2 separate regions of the Homo sapiens genome follow, and region 1 is linked to region 2. Evidence: fine-mapped expression QTL. A gene starts in region 2. The other region holds a variant in brackets. All regions are shown on one strand. Distances are between the middles of the regions. Region 1 holds the start of PLPBP (pyridoxal phosphate binding protein). Region 2 holds the start of ERLIN2 (ER lipid raft associated 2).

What was found. PIP is the estimated chance that this variant, and not a neighbour inherited with it, causes the effect.
Region 1: its variant is fine-mapped to the expression of ERLIN2 in whole blood (TOPMed, PIP above 0.99).

What each region holds. Positions count from the first base shown.
Region 1 is chr8:37,759,276-37,767,843 of GRCh38, forward strand. PLPBP (pyridoxal phosphate binding protein) reads left to right here and starts at 3,370. Exons shown (of 8, transcript NM_007198.4): 1 at 3,370-3,483; 2 at 6,251-6,358; 3 at 6,436-6,471; 4 at 7,005-7,080. The coding sequence starts at 3,385. It overlaps LOC124901934 (a long non-coding RNA gene), which reads right to left and starts at 3,989. Exons shown (of 2, transcript XR_007060889.1): 1 at 3,652-3,989; 2 at 1-3,538. RefSeq lists enhancers at 2,919-2,998, 3,099-3,558, 3,136-3,430, 3,739-3,798 and a silencer at 3,058-3,378. The variant G/A (reference allele first, on the strand shown) is at 3,881.
Region 2 is chr8:37,732,540-37,741,107 of GRCh38, forward strand. It overlaps ERLIN2 (ER lipid raft associated 2), which reads left to right and starts at 4,095. Exons shown (of 12, transcript NM_007175.8): 1 at 4,095-4,139; 2 at 5,369-5,490; 3 at 7,826-7,907. The coding sequence starts at 5,384. LOC101929622 (a long non-coding RNA gene) reads left to right here. Exons shown (of 3, transcript NR_125820.1): 3 at 539-954. LOC102723701 (a long non-coding RNA gene) reads right to left here and starts at 4,887. Exons shown (of 2, transcript NR_125821.1): 1 at 4,840-4,887; 2 at 2,222-4,259. RefSeq lists enhancers at 3,968-4,177, 4,657-5,449.

The sequences.
Region 1 (8,568 bases), 27 kb after region 2:
CAAATGGGGAGGAGTAGTTACTTGCAAATAGAAAATAAATATTCTTCTCTGATGGTCTTCAGAAATTGTGAAGACTCTGTGCTGTTTGGGATGGTTTAAATGTCATTCTTTCTGTATGAAACCTCCCTAAGTCTTCCCTAGGTCTAGGGTTCTACTATCTCTATAGACATTTCAAAGGCCAGATGTGATGGCATGTGTGCCAAGGGCTTGCTGTCATGGGCTACTCTACCTGAATTCATTTAAACTGGGATGGGACATGGGCATTATTTCTCCGTTTCTCTTTAGAGCTAAGTAACCAGGCAACAGTAATTTTCTATTTTACTTTTTACTTTTTTATCCCCCTAAAAGACTCACAGTAGGCTCAGAAGGAAACAATTTTTAAATCCATATATGTTTTTCTCATAATTTGGATTTATTCCAGACTATGAGGGTGTTTTAAAAGCTTGATGGCATTGATGGTGAATAAGTATACTAGATTTTAGATTATTTATAAAATCTGTTTCTCTGGGCATTTGGCTTTTTAATCTTTCTCTTTTCCCCTTGGTCCTTGCAAATTATTGGAGCAATTTAAAGACAATTACTGGTGATGAAATGATTTTGGACTTGTATTTTTCAAGGATTAGGTAGTAGGGGAGGATGAAAGGTTAAATTGGATGGTTGATGTCCCAGGAAGAGGAAGAGAAGAAATTAAAAAAGCAAATAAGGAAAAAAAGGGACAAAGTGAAATAAAATTAATTCAAAAGTACAACTAAGAAGAAATTGGAATGTGAAATGACCATGGGACTGGGGGCACCATGATCTTTTTGTCTCCATTTCCATTTTCATAAGACCACAGAATGTCAGAGATGAAAAGCGAGCATATTGGAAGTAAATCGGCAGTAAAGCCTGTCTTACTCAGCCTGGTCTCTCTCAGGGTTCTTTACAGAGTAACGCCTCAGTAAATGTTCACTGAATGGATAAGGGGGTGGGAGGATGACCTTGCCTTGTAGTTCAAAGAATAGAGGTCCCTGGCTGGGCACGGTGGCCCACGACTGTAATCCCAGCACTTTGGGAGGCCGAGGCGGGTGGATCACAAGGTCAGGAGTTCGAGACCAACCTGGCTAACATAGTGAAACCCCATCTGTACTAAAAATACAAAAATTAGGCGGGCGTGGTGATGCACGCCTGTAGTCCCAGCTACTCGGGAGGCTCAGGCAGGAGAATCACTTGCACCCAGGAGGCAGAGGTTGCAGTGAGCCGAGATCGCGTCACTGCACTCCAGCTTGAGTGACAGAGCAAGACTTCGTCTCAAAAAACACAAAAAAGAATAGAGGCCCAATCTAGTAAATGAAGCTACAACTACTTGTTGTCATAGTGACGTAACACCTGGATTATACATTCCCTAGATCTGTGAGGTATTTATGGTTTTAAAATGTTTTCCAAATAGCACATTATTTGAAGTGTTTCATCTCACCCAATCCTTCCTCTACACATCCCATCACCATGATCCCCTCTGTCCTCCCCATCACTCACTGCTGGCTCGCTCCTTCCCACCTGTGTCTCTACAGCAAGCATCTATTATGCTCACACCACAAAGGGCCATTCTGGTCATTTTAAATTTTTTTATCATTTTGGTTGGAGTACAGATGTATCAAGTCTAGAGACATTTTATCTGAACACAATTACTCCTAATGTTGGCAGTCCTAGTTTGCAGATAACCCAGTTAATGTGTACCAGGGTAAATGACCAGAGACTTCCCAAAAAGAAGTCCCTTATTTTAAGGATCTGAGGTTCTGCCTAATGTGACTTTCCCAGAGCAGAAGATGTGAAATTCCATCTCTGTTCCTGGGAGTCTGGGGAAAAACTGTGAGAGGAGAGAGTAAGAATATTGCCCCTTCTTTCCGGAAAGCTCTAATAAACCCCATCACCTCAAGACAAGACCACCTGAAGAACAAACATTAGCCATTTCTCTAATATAATAGCATCCCACTTCATTAAGTTGAATTAATGTTTGAGAAACTTTCAACAGAAATTGCAGCCAAGAGTGCTTTCCTTAACAAAATTGATCTCCTTCTCCTTGCCCGTAGCACCTACTATTTCACCACCTGACTATGTAGCATTCTGTATTATTATTTGTATGGCCTGGCTCCTCATCAAGTTTATAACCATATTGCCCACAGAAGGGGACTCAAGAATCAAACTCAGGGCGTTGTGGTGCCCGTTTGTAGTCCCAGCTATTCTGTGAGGCGGAGGTGGGAGGATTGCTTGGGCCCACGAGTCCCAGATAATCTGGGCAACATAGCGAGACCCCATCTCAAAAAAAGAATCTAACTGAATGTGCTGAGCTCCTGCTAGACCATCTAAAGCTGCCTGTGGGCTGGGCGCGGTGGCTCGCACCTGTAGTCCCAGCTACTGGGGAGGCTGAGGCAGGAGAATCGCTTGAACCCGGGAGGTGGAGGTTGCAGTGAGCCCAGATCGGGCCACCGCACTCCAGCCTGGGTGACAGAGCGAGACTGTCTCAATAATAATAATAGTAATAATCATGCTGCCTGTGTCCCCTGATGAGACAGCACTGGCCGCAGGTGGCCGCTAACCTCTCGAAATAGGGATGGCCCGAATTGAGACATATGCAAGTCAACACTACACCGGGTTTCAGAAACACATACGATTTTCAAAAGAATTAAAATATCGCATTTAGTTTTTCTATTGATTGCATGTTGAAATCTTACTTTGGATATATTGGATTAAATAAAGTATATCATTAAAATTTTTAAGCTTATGTGCCTATGAGAAACTTCCAAATTACACAGTTGGATGGCGTTATATTTCTCTTGGACAGCAGTGGTCTGAAAGATGACAAAAATCACGATACGTTTGAATCACGCCATGTCTTTAGGGAAAAGAAGAAAGAAGAGTTTCCTTTCGTATCGCTTAGGGGTTCCTCGCAAGAACCATCTGACAGAGAAAAGCCCTGGCTCCCGCCCCAGTGGCTTCTAATTCTGGTCCCCGCGCCCAGAAAGCCGGGAACGGGCAAGCCTGGAAAGGCGTTTTGAAAGGAAACAGGATCCCCCGAGTATAGGATGCGTTTCTGCCTCACAAAAGTCCCTTGGGGGTGGGGGGACGGCAGCGGCTGAGGCGCAGGAAAGAGGAGAGCACACGGGGAGTGGCCCTTGGAACCAGGCGCGCAAAACCTCAGCCCCTAGGCTCCATTTCCAGGTTCGCGGGTGACCTCCCCAAGATGGCCGCCGCCTGGGGGCGGGCCTCCACGCTGCACGGGTGTTGATTGGGTGAGACGACTCAATGATGAGCAATGATTGGTTCACACGGCGCAAGCTGGGCGGAACCGGAAGATGGTGTGAGCCACGGGCTGCCGGGGGCCTGGGGCTCGGCGTCGGTCCCCGGGGGATGTGGAGAGCTGGCAGCATGTCGGCCGAGCTGGGAGTCGGGTGCGCATTGCGGGCGGTGAACGAGCGCGTGCAGCAGGCTGTGGCGCGGCGGCCGCGGGTGAGGAAGGAGGCTGCGTGGGGACGGTGGGCGGCCGCCTTGAGAAGAGGGACACCTGCGTGGGAATGGGTCGTCACGGTGACGCAGAGGGGTCTCCCAGAGAGGCGGGACTGGTCGGCCGCCTAGGGCCACCGAAAGGCTAGCGAAGGGTTTCCCCAGCCTCCTTACCTTGAGTCTGTTAGGTTTTCTGGAGATTGGCTTCGTTGGAGCAGAGGGTACCGCTACCTCGGGAAAATGACTTAGTGCCTAGGTGTCGTGGCCACTTGCGCACCGCGTCGTTTCGGGGTCGATAGCCTTGGCGGATGCGAGGGGGGCCAGGCCTGTGCCCACGGATGGTAAGGGGAGACGGGGGTACAAGAGCACCCCGCGGAGGCCAGAGACGCCCGAGATCGCGTGT[G/A]TGGCAGCGTCTCACCTGCTAAGTGCCCAAGAAATGCCAGTGCCGCCCGGAGGCCGAGGTGAGGGTGGACTGGCCGGACTTCGCTGGCATCAGAGCGGCACTTGTTTATGGGGCAGGAGGGAGAAGTCCAATCCCAAGCCGGTTAAGGGGAGCTTTCGTCTTTTGTGTATATATATATTACATCCTCTTGGACTTTGATTAGACCAAGAATCAAAATCTGCCCACCTCAGTGCAAGTTTAAGCTGAATGGTGTGGAATGAGACGGACCTTAACAGAGAGGTCACAGGTTTCTCTGATCGAGCATTTATGCTGGCTGAAGACAAGACCTGTATTATAGTCTTTCTTTGACTATTCCTTAGACGTTACCTTGAACAAGTCAGGTAACTATTCCGGCCCTCAGCTCTGAAAGCTCTGAGATCTCTTCTGATGTTAATATTCTGTGATTCTCGGTGATTCTCCAAGAAAAATCTAGGGCTTCCCCTAATAAACATCACCTTGGAGGTTCTCTCAGGGAAACTCTCAGGCAGATGGGCTGCCTGTTCGGGTAACTCTCTGGAAAGCGTCAATCATCAGCATACTCCCAGTAGTCACGACTTGGACTCAAACGAGGCTGGTTACGCATCGCTGTGGAAGGAAGGAAGAGGAGACATTTTTCTAATTGATCTGACTCCGTCACGTCCTTGAGAACACTGTGATTCTGTGAAAACTTCAGGGGATGATGGATACAAGAAGACTAAATCGTGCAAGGATAAACGAATCTCTTCTCTTACTGTTTCTATGTGGATTGGGTGGCAGCAGAACGCATAGAACCCCCGCTCTTTGTATAGTGGTCGTGAGAGGATGTCACATAGGTCTGATCCTGAATCCAGAATTTTTTGTGTCGCAGCCTTAGTTCTGCCACTGGTTCTTTTCTTTCTTTTTTTTTTTTTTTTTGTTGTGTTGTTTTGTTTTGTTTTGTTTTGTTTGAGACAGAGTCTCGTTCTGTCGCCCAGGCTGGAGTGCAGTGGCACGATCTTGGCTCACCGCAACCTCCACCTCCCGGGTTCACGCAATTCTCCTGCCTCAGCCTCCTGAGTAGCTGGGATTACAGGCACACACCACCACACCTGGCTAATTTTTTGTGTATTTTTAGTAGAGACAGGGTTTCATTATGTTGGCCAGACTGTTGTTTTTTGTTTTATTTTGAGACGGAGTCTCACTCTGTCACCCAGGCTGGAGTGCAATGGCACAGCCTCAGCTCACTGCAACCTCCACCTCCCGGATTCAAGCAATTCTCCTGCCTTAGCTTCCCAAGTAGCTCGGATTACAGATGCCCACCACCACACCTGGCTAAGTTTTAGTATTTTAATAGAGATGGGGTTTCACCTTTTGGCCAGGCTGGTCTCGAACTCGTAACTTCAGGTGATCCACCCACCTCGGCCTCCCACAGTGCAGGGATTACAGGCGTGTGGCTCACCTGGCCATGCCACTGGTTCTTAATTCACAGATTGAACAATCAATTACTTAGTTACCTAAGTGGGCCACTTTTAGAGTAAATGGGGCAGTGTTATTATGGTGTAATGATACACCAGGACTAGAATGAGTCGCCAAACTGCTAACGTTTGGGTTTCAGAAGCCAGAAGTGACCTCTCTTTTACTTAGAGTGCAGCCTTCTATTAATGAAGTGATTCTTAAGCCTCCAACATTAGTATGTCTTAGAGTCATCTGGAGAGATTGTTAAAAAGGAAATTCTCCGCTGGGCACAGTGGCTCATGCCTGTAATCCCAGCACTTTGGGAGGCCGAAGTGGGCAGATCACCTGAGGTCGGGAGTTCAAGGCCAGCCTGACCAACATGGGGAAACCCTGTCTCTACTAAAAATACAGAATTAGTCAGGCATGGTGATGCATGCCTGTAATCCCAGCTACTCAGGAGGCTGAGGCAGGAGAATTGCTTGATCACTTGAACCCAGGAGGCAGAGGTTGCGGTGAGCCGAGATGGCACCATTGCACTCCAGCCTGGGCAACAAGAGTGAAACTCTGTCTCAAAAAAAAAGGAAATTCTCACCCAGGTGATGCCGATGCAGTTGGTCAAAGACCACACTTACAGGAAATACTGCTTTAACTTGCCCGGCTCTCCTGAGAGAGACATTTCTTCTGCTGAATATTGACATCGCTAACATTGATGCATAGATTGAGATGCCATGCGCCTAAAAAACATTTGATCATGATCACCACTATTTGATATTGATCTGCCTACAGTGTTGAAAAAATGGATCTTACCTAATGCCAAGTTGAGATCAATGCCTGTCTATCCTACAGGATCTATCCTATGGGATTCATTGGGGTACTGTTCCCAAACATTCACTCATATGGCTCTTTCCCTCTTGGCAGGATCTCCCAGCCATCCAGCCCCGGCTAGTGGCGGTCAGCAAAACCAAACCTGCAGACATGGTGATCGAGGCCTATGGACATGGGCAGCGCACTTTTGGCGAGAACTACGTAAGAGCCCTTTCCTGAAGCCCTTTGGAAGCATCATGATTGCCAGGCTTCTGACTTGTTCTGTTTTGACCTTTTAGGTTCAGGAACTGCTAGAAAAAGCATCAAATCCCAAAGTAAGTAGATAGCTGAATTCTTTAATTTGTATCTAAATCTTGGCTCTTTAGTTGAAAATTAGACCCATCCTGGTGGTTGAGTTGTACAGCAGTTTTAGGGTGGTTGACTTTAGATTGGGCCAGGGATAGAAATGTCAGCTTCCTCCTTGAGCCCCAAGTAATTCTCAGCTAGATTTTTCTCTTTGTTCAGACTGTCGTTTTCTCATTGGTGGCTGTTTGGAAATGGTGGTTTCAGGAGCTTGCTGTAATCTTGGATCTTTTCAAGATTTGAAAGCTTAAATCAGTTCATCCTAGATGGGCAATATCTGAAAGATGGAGGGAATTGATGGGAACAAGGAAGGAAAACAGAACAGAAGCCTTAGATTTTTCTCTATCCTTTTACCTCATTAGGAGGCCGGGTGAAGATTGTGATAGTTTATTACATTTAAGGAACAGAGAGTGGATGTGAAAGGTGACAGGGAGTGCACGAGGCGTTTGAGCCAGCAAGGCCTCTATAAAATCTGAATTACACATGGTTACCTTTTTCCCCTCAGATTCTGTCTTTGTGTCCTGAGATCAAATGGCACTTCATTGGCCACCTACAGAAACAAAATGTCAACAAATTGATGGGTAAGATAAAATTAAATATGAAAACAAAATTGTTCTGTCATTGTATTGCTTCTACTACCCTTTGTGGAAGAGAGAGCAACTTTTAGAATAGCCCCAATTCACCATTTGTTTTTGGAATTTCTTTAGGAAAGTCTGAGTTCTTAATAAAAAGAGAAAACATCATGCCAAGAACAGAATGAATTCACCATTTTCTGGGTTATATATACTTGGAAACCTACCCAACCTCATGTTTATTATTATTTGGTGGTCTTTCAGAAAAATTATAAAGAATTGTAGCCCATAAATTTTTTTAACTAGCAAAAGAGACATTTCTGTTCTTTTTCCTTTAAATAAAAGGCTACAGTAAATAAAATACAATACAGTAAAGTAAGTATAGTAAAGTAAAATTAAGAATTATAGTAAAGTAGGCCAGGCGCGGTGGCTGACACCTATAATCCCAGCACCATGGGAGGCCGAGGCAGGCGGATCACCTGAGGTCAGGAGTTCAAGACCAGCCTGGCCAACATGGTGAAACCCCAACTCTATTAAAAATGCAAAAAAATAGCTGAGCGTGGTGGTGCATGCCTGTCAAGTCCCAGCTACACAGGAGGCTGACGCAGGAGAATCGCATGAACCCGGGAGGCAGAGGTTGCAGTGATCCAAGATCACGCCACTGCACTCCAGACTAGGTAACAGAGCAAGACTTCATCCCAAAAAAAAAAAAAAAAAAAAAAACAAGAATCATAGTAAAATAAAATTAAGAAAGACATGGAGATCTTGAGTAACTGAACTTATTTCCCTTAAGGTATAAAAATTTAAATAACCTGTATATATTTTGTAACAGCTTTATTAGGGAGGTAAGTGACTTACAATACATTGCACATATTTAAAGTATAGAATTCGACGAGTTTTGATGTATGTTTGCACCTGTGAAACCATCACAACAAACAGTGAGCATATCTATCACCCCTAAAAGTTTCCTCCTGTCCCTTGGTAATCCCTCTCTTACCTGTCCCACTTCTCTTCCTCAAGAACCACTTACCTGCTTTTGTCACTGTTAATGTACGTGAGTTTACATTTTTTAGAGTTTTATCCAAAGGGAATCATGAAGTATGTACTCTTTTTTGTCTGACTTCTTTCATTCAGTGTAGTGATTCATCATGTTCATACCTGTATCAAAGGTTCAATTCTTTTTATCATTCAGTAGTATTCCATTGTATAAGTATATTACAATTTGTTTATCCATTCACCTGTTGATGAATGTTGGGTTGCTTCTGATTTTTGACTGTTGCAAATAAGTTGCTATGAATATTTGTGTACGAGCCTTTGTATGGATATATTTCCCTTTTTCTTGGAATAAATATATAGGAATAGAATGGCTGAATCACAAGTTAAGTGTTATGTTTAACTTTTTATAACTGCAATAAAACAAACATAAAATTTACTGTCTTGATCTTTTATTTACTTTTTTTTTTTTTTTTTTTTTTTTGAGATGGAGTCTCGCTCTGT
Region 2 (8,568 bases):
AATCTAGAGTGGCAAAAGAAGATCAGTGGTCTTTTGAGAATCGAAAAGGGGGTGTACCAAAGAGGGGTAAGAGGGAGAGATTACAAAGAGGCATGGGGAAATTTGGGGCCATGATGCATGTGTTCATTATACTGATTGTGGTAATGGCTTCACAGGTATTTGCAAGTCAAAATGTAAATTGTAGACTTTATGAACAGTTTATTACATGTCAATTATATCTCAATAAAGCTGTAAAAATGTGTAATCACAAAAGGACCTTTAGGTGCCTTCTAGCTGACTTTCAACTCAATTTTTTTCCTGATGGCTCTTTGATCTCTTTACCCAATGCCTTGAAGAAACATCATTAGCCCCAAGCAAATATGCTTTTGTTCTTGGAAGGCACCAATCCCGGTTTTTGCAACTGAAAAAAAAAGAAAAGAGGAAAAATTTCTGAGCCCCCTTAATAACTAAGGATACAGTTCACTCCTCTTCCCATAAGCTCACCAAAATCTTACTGGAATCAAATGTTCTAAAAGATTATTTCTATTCCCTGTTTTAGGGCCTAAAGTGAAAAAGATAAACTTTAAATCAAACGGAAACTTTTTCCAGCAACTTCCACTCTTGTGATACTGAACTGAACTGAAGCAGAAGATTTTAAGAGTTGCCTGAATCCTTTGGACCTGCTTATTGGCTTAAAAAGTCTAATTGTGAAATTGACTTAAAAATTCCTAATTGTGAAAGAAGGGGTCTCTTCTTTGGCATGGCACTCTCACTAACAATTTTCTTGGTAAGAGGACCCAACAAACAGCAATAGAAATAGAAAACTATGGATTGCTAGGTGAGAGTATTTTTTAACCTGCTTCAATCTACAACTGCAAAATGAACTGGCCCAATTTAATTAGAAAAATTTCAGTTTCTGACCACTGATCTACATTACTGAAAGGTTACATGTGAAATAAATGTGGGGTGTGTGTGTGTGTTTGTGTCTGAAATTGAATCATTTTCTAACTCATTCACTATAAAAAAGAAATAGACGGGATCATTTGAACTCTGCCTTTGCAATTTATCATCTTCGTGATCTTAGACAATCTCTTAATTTCTCTAAGCTTCCACTTTCTCCTCTAAAATGGAGTTGAACTCAAAGGGCTGACCTAAAGTTTACATAAAATGAGAAAATGTAAGGTACTGGGGCTGATACATAGACAGTATTCAATAAAGCTTTATGAAATCTGTATTGTAAATATCCATTGAGGTATAATTTCAGAAGCCTTTATCTCTTCTTCTGATAAGCCTTCATTTGGTTATTATTTAATACCATACAACTTAAAGTTTATCATTCTCTCGCCCTGTGTCACATTAATAATCTGCAATGATAACCCACAAACATGCAAGAATACATTAAGGGAATTTGCTATTTAAAACAGCAACAGCTAACACTTGGTGAACACTTAAAATGTACCAAATGTTGTATATGCTTTTCACAACAGTCCTATAAGTTTCATACCATTATTACTTTAATTTTATAGATGAAGAAACTGAGGCAGGGATAGATCATTTTTCCAATGTTACAGAATAAGAGGCAGGCTCCAGGATTTAAACAAGGCAGCCTGACTGTGAAGTATCTGAGCTAAATCACTACTCTATACTGTGAGGTTTTTTAAAAAATAAAATTTTAGCCGGGCGCAGTGGCTCACGCCTGTAATCCCAGCACTTTGGGAGCCCAAGGCACGTGGATCACTTGAGGTCAGGAGTTCAATACCAGCCTGACCAACGTGGTGAAACCCCATCTCTACTAAAAATACAAAAATTAGCCAGTCGTGGTGGCATGCGTCTGTAGCCCCAGCTACTCGGGAGGCTGAGGCAGGAGAATCGCTTGAAGGGAGGCAAAGGTTGCAGAGCTGAGATCGCGCCACTGCAGTCCAGCCTGGGTGACAGAGCGAGACAGGAAGGAAGGAAGGAAGGAAGGAAGGAAGGAAGGAAGGAAGGAAGGAAGGAAGGAGAAAAAGAAATTGTAAACATTTTTGTTAAACAAATCATCACAAATGTATCTGCTGGGTAACATAAAAATCACAGGTCTCTTAAGAAAGAGATTTTCAGAAGTACTAGATCATCATGTACTAGCACATCACGAAGTCCATCCCCCTGCCTTTAGGCACGTCCACAACTAAATAACTCAGGTCTGGTAAAATGACTCCTAAGAACAAAATCCCAAAACTTCTAGCCACAATTCACTCCAAAGTTTAATGTGAGGAAATTTTTGTGTTTTTATTATTTTTAATTGACACATAATAATATACATATTTGTGGGAAGGGGAGGGGAGACGGGTTGCCAGAGGTTGGTTAAAGGAAATTCTTAAATTACAAGTAATTTAAATACTTGATGCTGCAGGCTAGCCCCCATTTCATGGGTTGATGAACCCTAATATTTCCATTTTTCTTACTCAATTATTAAATAAACTATTAAATAAGCATGCCCAGCTGAGGTTATATCACTGAACAGGGAGAGAAAAAACTCAAGTTCTGATAGGATTGATCGAGAGATTGGCCAGCTGTGTCTGTTTGGGGTGGGGGATGCAGGGACAGAGTAGGGAGATGAAAGGCCTTCATTTATGGAGATGGGCACAGAGCTCCCAGACAGCACCATGTAACCCTCGTATGGGTTTCACCATGTAATGCTGAAACATCCCAACACCCAGAGCAAACGCAGGAAAGGTAAACGGGCCAATCCCAAGCAGGCATGCCTGGAAAAAACCACACTTCCCTTTTCCTGAGTCTTAAATCTGTCTAACACCACCAGCTTGCCATCTTCCCGGTGTAAAAGTTTTTCTTTTACTGAAGGCTATAATTAAGTGGACTCTTTCTCTCCTGCAAACAAAATATTAATAACCTCAGTGGCTGAATTAGAAATGCCCCAATGTGATGCTGGTGAATAGGGCAGGTGGAGGACAACGTGAGGCCCTTAGACTAGGAGACACAAACTCTGGATTCCGGGCCTGGTCCCACGTTGCCTTCAGTCTGTTTTTACTGGGCACCTAAGCCCCGGGGGTGCGGAAGGAAAGTCAGTCTCTGCTCTCCCGGGAACGTACAGTTTATCTAGAAAGACGAAGTGCACTAGCCCCTGTGCACTGTGGCAGGAGTTTAAAAAGCAGTGAACTCAAGATATTAAGGAAACACAAAGGAAACTTTCCTTGGCTTTTACCCTTGAACCTCGCTGAACTTCTTAGATTCCGTTCATTAAAATTAGAATAATAATTCCTTGTTAATATACTTTGTGGCGTTGCAGGATCCCAAGGGCCAAAGCTCCCAGAAAAATATAAAGAACAACTCAAGGTAGGGATTTTTGATTGGTGAGGTAATGATGCTAATCTGTACATTGAAAAGACTGTTTCATTTCAGCTGTGCTATAGGAAAGCAAACAGTTGCAACTCGCCAGTACCTTATCAAGGAGAGAAAAAAAAAAAGGCCGCGCATGGTGGCTCATGCCTGTAATCCCAGCAGTTTGGGAGGCCGAGGCAGGAGGATTGCTTGAAGCCAGAGTTTGAGACCAGAAATACCAAGACCCTGTCTTTACTAAAAATAAAATTGTCAAGTGTCGTGGCGTGCGCCTGTGGTCCCAGCTACTCAGCAGGGTGAGGTGGGAGGATCGCTTAAGCCCAGGAGTTCGAGGCTGTAGTGAGCTATGATCGTGCCACTGCACTCCAGCCTGGGCAAAAGAGCGAGACCTTGTCTCTAAAAAAACCAAAACGAACCAGGTTCGGCCTAATGCAGAAGGAAATCCGGAGCAATCCCCAAAGTCAACGCCTTGGAAAGGTTCGCCCTGGGTCTCAGTACTCCGGGGCATGCGCGTCCTGCCGCTCGCTCTCGGGGAGCTCCCACCAACACCGCCCTCATCCCCAGCCCCAGGACGGATACCCAAGACCGAGGTCCAGGACCGCACCGACCAAGTCGCGGGCGATCCCTGGCGGCCAGCTACGGCCATTGACCGCTGGGAGCGCGAGGGGCGGGGCGCAGAGCGAGCGCGGGGCGGGGGTGTGGTCTTCTCGCGTGAATTGATGGCGTCATCGAAGCGACGGCCCGGAAGGAAGTCGCGTGCTGAGGGGTGTGACGGTTTTCTTGCTCGTGGGCTCGGACGAGTACGGAGCGCCTGCAGGGACAGCCTGGTACGCGGCCCCCGCCCCTTCGTGCGCGCGCTGGGCCTAGCTGCCGCTCAGGGTCGGGGCTGACCCGTCACTTTCGGGAACCTCAGTCCCAGCAGCTTCTCTCCCTCAGCCGGCCCGCTCCTGGAGAGAGACAGAAACCCTTTTCTGTCGCGTCCTCTCCTTGCGAGCCGCAGGGGGACCGAGCGGAGGCTATTGGAGCCGCAGCCCCAGACCAGGGCGCTTGACCCTCTCTCGGAACGGGGCGGGGAAGGGGCGCGAGTGACCTCGGGGAGGGAAGGGCACTGGCAGGAAAGGACGCAACTGCAGATCGGTAGCCGGAGGCCGCCACGGTAAAATAAGCGCCTCGCAGATGTCCGCGCCCCGGTTACGTTAGACCTGGGAGGCAGAATCCACGCCCTGCGCTCACGGGCCCACGCACGCACAGCTGAACTTTGCAGTCAGTCACCATAGTTCCAGATCATTCAGCGTTCAGGATCCCACTCCTCCGCGTCCTGGTGCCTGAACGCGGTTGGACCTAGGAGCCTAGAGGCTCGCAGTTTGGGACATTGCCTTTCTCTCTGACCACGGGCTTGGGGATCTGTCAGGTGCAAAGTGCCAAAGTATATGGGGGGGAGTGTGGCTTCAGGCTTGTTCAGAGCCCTGTCCTGTTTAGGGCCAAAGGAATAACTGGGAAGGTGGATGCGAGGCCAACGAATCCTACCTTGAAACTCTGCTCGCCTGCTGGCTCTGCCACTCCAGCATCTGAAAGGAGTAAATAATGGTTTCCTTTGAAACTGCAGGCAATTAGGAGTGGGAGACTCTGACCAGAATTACATAGCCACAACTGCCTGTCATTTGGCATCCTCTGTAATTTGGGCCAAAGTACTGCAGCTGCCTCTCTTCCCTACTACTGGTAGGAAAGGTTCAGTGACAGCACATTCGTGTTCACAGGAAGACAAGGCTGTGTTCTGAACCCTACCCAGCTGGCACGGGTTCTCCCTTGAGCAACGGCTGTATCCGGAGCCAGTGCTTCCTCAGTGCGGTGGGGGCTCTAATTTTACAGTTAAAGAAAGGGGAACGTTGACTGAGAACGAGGAGGAAGCGAGTTGTAGATCTAGCCTTGTGTTCACACGACACCAGGCTGGATATGAGTCACTCGCAGGGAGCTCAGCTTGGTGAGGTCCTCTCGCTGTTGTGGCCTTTTCTCCTGCACGTTGGACCACACACATTTTCCCGTGTCTTTTCCCTAGGATAAAGGCTCACTGATGGCTCAGTTGGGAGCAGTTGTGGCTGTGGCTTCCAGTTTCTTTTGTGCATCTCTCTTCTCAGCTGTGCACAAGATAGAAGAGGGACATATTGGGGTATATTACAGGTAAGGCAGAGACAGGGAGAAGCCGGCAACTTCCTGTTAAATAGCTCCCTTTCCTGGTCATTGCTTTCCTAGCAGATTCTGCTGAACATCTCTATTTATATTTCCTTGAATAGGGGAGCCTTTTCAGATGGAGCTTTTTATGTCAGTAACCACGGGAAAGAGAATACACACACACACATATATATGTAAATTTAGAACTTCACTTAGTAGTCCAAGATGATGCCATGGGTGGTGATTAATAAATGTGTATATAGATTTAGAGACAAAATCTAAAGGAAACTGGTGCTCCTCATTGATCATCCCTAAAATACTGTTTTCTCCTACATTCCTCTGGCAGTCTTAGCTCTACATCCCTCTGGCAGTCTTAGCTCTACATCCCTCTGGCAGTCTTAGCTCTACACTGCTAGGTTACCTTTACAAAAGCCAGCTGAGTACCAGTTCTTGATGGCAACTTGAGAAGGTAGCCTACTCTGCTAATTTGGGATGCTCTTTTAAAATTAACATTTCAGCCAGCCTGGGTCACATAGTGAGACCCTATCTCTAAAAAAATAAAATAAAAAATAAAATTTTAATTGGCCGGCTGTGGTGTCACACACACGTAGTCCTAGCTACTCAGGAGGCTTAGATGGGAGGATCACCTGAGCCCAGGAGATTGAGACCAGCCTGAGCAACATAGTGAGAGCCCATCTCTACAAAAAGTAAAAAATTAGCCGAGCATGGCAGCACGTGCCTGTAATCCCAGTTATTTGGGGGGCTGAGGTGGGAGGATCACTTGAGCCCAGAAGTTTGAGGCTGCAGTGAGCTATGATCACACCACTGCACTCCAGCCTGGGTGACAGAGCAAGACCCTGTCTCTAAAAATAAAATAATATTAACATTTCAAGAAAAATGAAAGAGCCTGCAGGTTGACTTACGTCAATCAAAGCAAGCCTTAGGATAGTGGTTCCTACAATAAAGGAACCCATTATGTCACTGTTTATTTTATTGGTTTTTTTTTTAATTCTTTGCCTAATATAAAGCAAAGAAGCACTTATAAGTCTTGGGTTGCTTTCTTTTTAGTAACCTCCATGACCAAGTGTTTTGCTTTATGTCTTTATGAACTCTTCTTATATGTGCTGTTGTGATGCTTGTTTCTGGATTGCTAACAGCAAGTTCTAAAACTCTGATTGGAATTCCTCTCTCCTTTAATTCTTTCTCCCCATCATCTGCTTACATGTTCCCCAAAAAGGCTTTTAACTTCATCATTTACATATAACTTGATTAGAAAGGTAACTCTATTGCCAAAACATATATTTCAATTATTTATAAAGTACTTCAAATTATTCTTTTGGTTGGTCATGTCATTGGACTCCAGCATTAGTGCAGGTAGTTGATAACCATATTACTGGACTTAACTGCCCTAATGGATTGCCACAAGCCCAACAGATATGACAAAGTAAAACAGACTTCTTATCTTTTTTTTTTTTGAGACAGTCTCGCTGTGTTGCCCAGGCTGGAGTGCAGTGGTGAGATCTTGGTTCACTGCAACCTCCGCCTCCCAGGTTCAAGCAATTCTCTGCCTCAGCCTCCTAAGTAGCTGGGATTACAGGTGCCTGCCACCACGCCTGGCTAATTTTTGTATTTTTAGTAGAGACGAGGTTTCACCATGTTGGCCAGGCTGGTCTTGAACTCCTGACCTAATAATCCACTCACCTCAGCCTCCCAAAGATCACAGGCGTGAGCCACCGCGCCTGGCCAGACTTTCTCTTATCTAAGTATACCCATGGATTCTGCTGTCTTTTTCTTTTTTTTTTTTAGACAGAGTCTCACTTTGTTGCCCAAGCTGGAGTGCAGTGGCACAATTATGTCTCACTACATCCTCAACCTCCCAGGCTCAAGCAATTCTTACATCTCAGCCTCCCAAGTAGCTGGGACTATAGGCATACAACCACCACACTCAGCTAATTTTTTTCCTTTTCTTTTTTTGTAGAGACAGGGTCTCACTATTTGAGACAGGTTGGTCTCAAACTCCTGAGTTCATGCAATCCTCTCACCTCAGCCCCGCAAAGCGCTGGGACTGCACTAGTGGGTTCTGCTGTCTTTATTCCATTTAGCCTATGTGCCTATTTTTCTCCTTGCAAAAGCATGAACAATAGTTTTATGTTTTACCATCAGGCTTCCTAGAATATTAGGATCTAGCTGAGAGGAAGAAAGGGATCTGTAGCCATGGCTGCAGCACATGTCACTCTCTATTATATGTTTATAGGGCTGAAGGGAAAGTTGACCCTCATGATATTGATCTAACAGAGCCTTCTTGCCAAACTGAAGCTGCCTCTCTCTTCCCCCTCCTCTGCAGAGGCGGTGCCCTGCTGACTTCGACCAGCGGCCCTGGTTTCCATCTCATGCTCCCTTTCATCACATCATATAAGTCTGTGCAGGTATGCTTGGCCTCTGTGGTATGGCTGGACGACTGCAAACTTGGGCTGTTAACTAGTGCATGATTTGAAATTATTTAGCCATTGGATGAGTAAAATGCCATTCTAGAGAATGATATAAGGATAATATATACATATTATATATATATAATATATATATATATACACACATACACTATATATATATAAAATGAGGCTGGGGATTATTCCTTCAAGATAAAGCCAGAGAAGAACCTGTTCTGAGTATATGGAAAGAAAAGTCAGGGTTTATGTGTGTATGTTTTAAATCACAGGCTACCATGTTAAATGGAAAGAAAACATAGTAATTTTGCTGATTCTTATTTGAATTCAGAAATACGAACATAATTTTTGCAGTGAGTGGGGAGGAGTTAAACTAAGTGAGGGGAGGTGACATCTAAAATAGGAGTGAGGTTAGTTGTGGCAGATCTAAAGCCTGGCTAAGTTGGACTTGCCATCTCTGAAGTATGTCCAGCTAAGAAGAATAACAAGATTTTACACTTTACACTGACCCAGGAGAATGTCTTGGGATACCTGCTAGGCATTTTCCCTGTAAGTTTCATGTGCTGTTTACCAGGCTTTGTGGCTTTCAAACTGCATTCAGGTACATTGTCTCATTTGAGTCTTGTAGTAATCCTGAGAATGG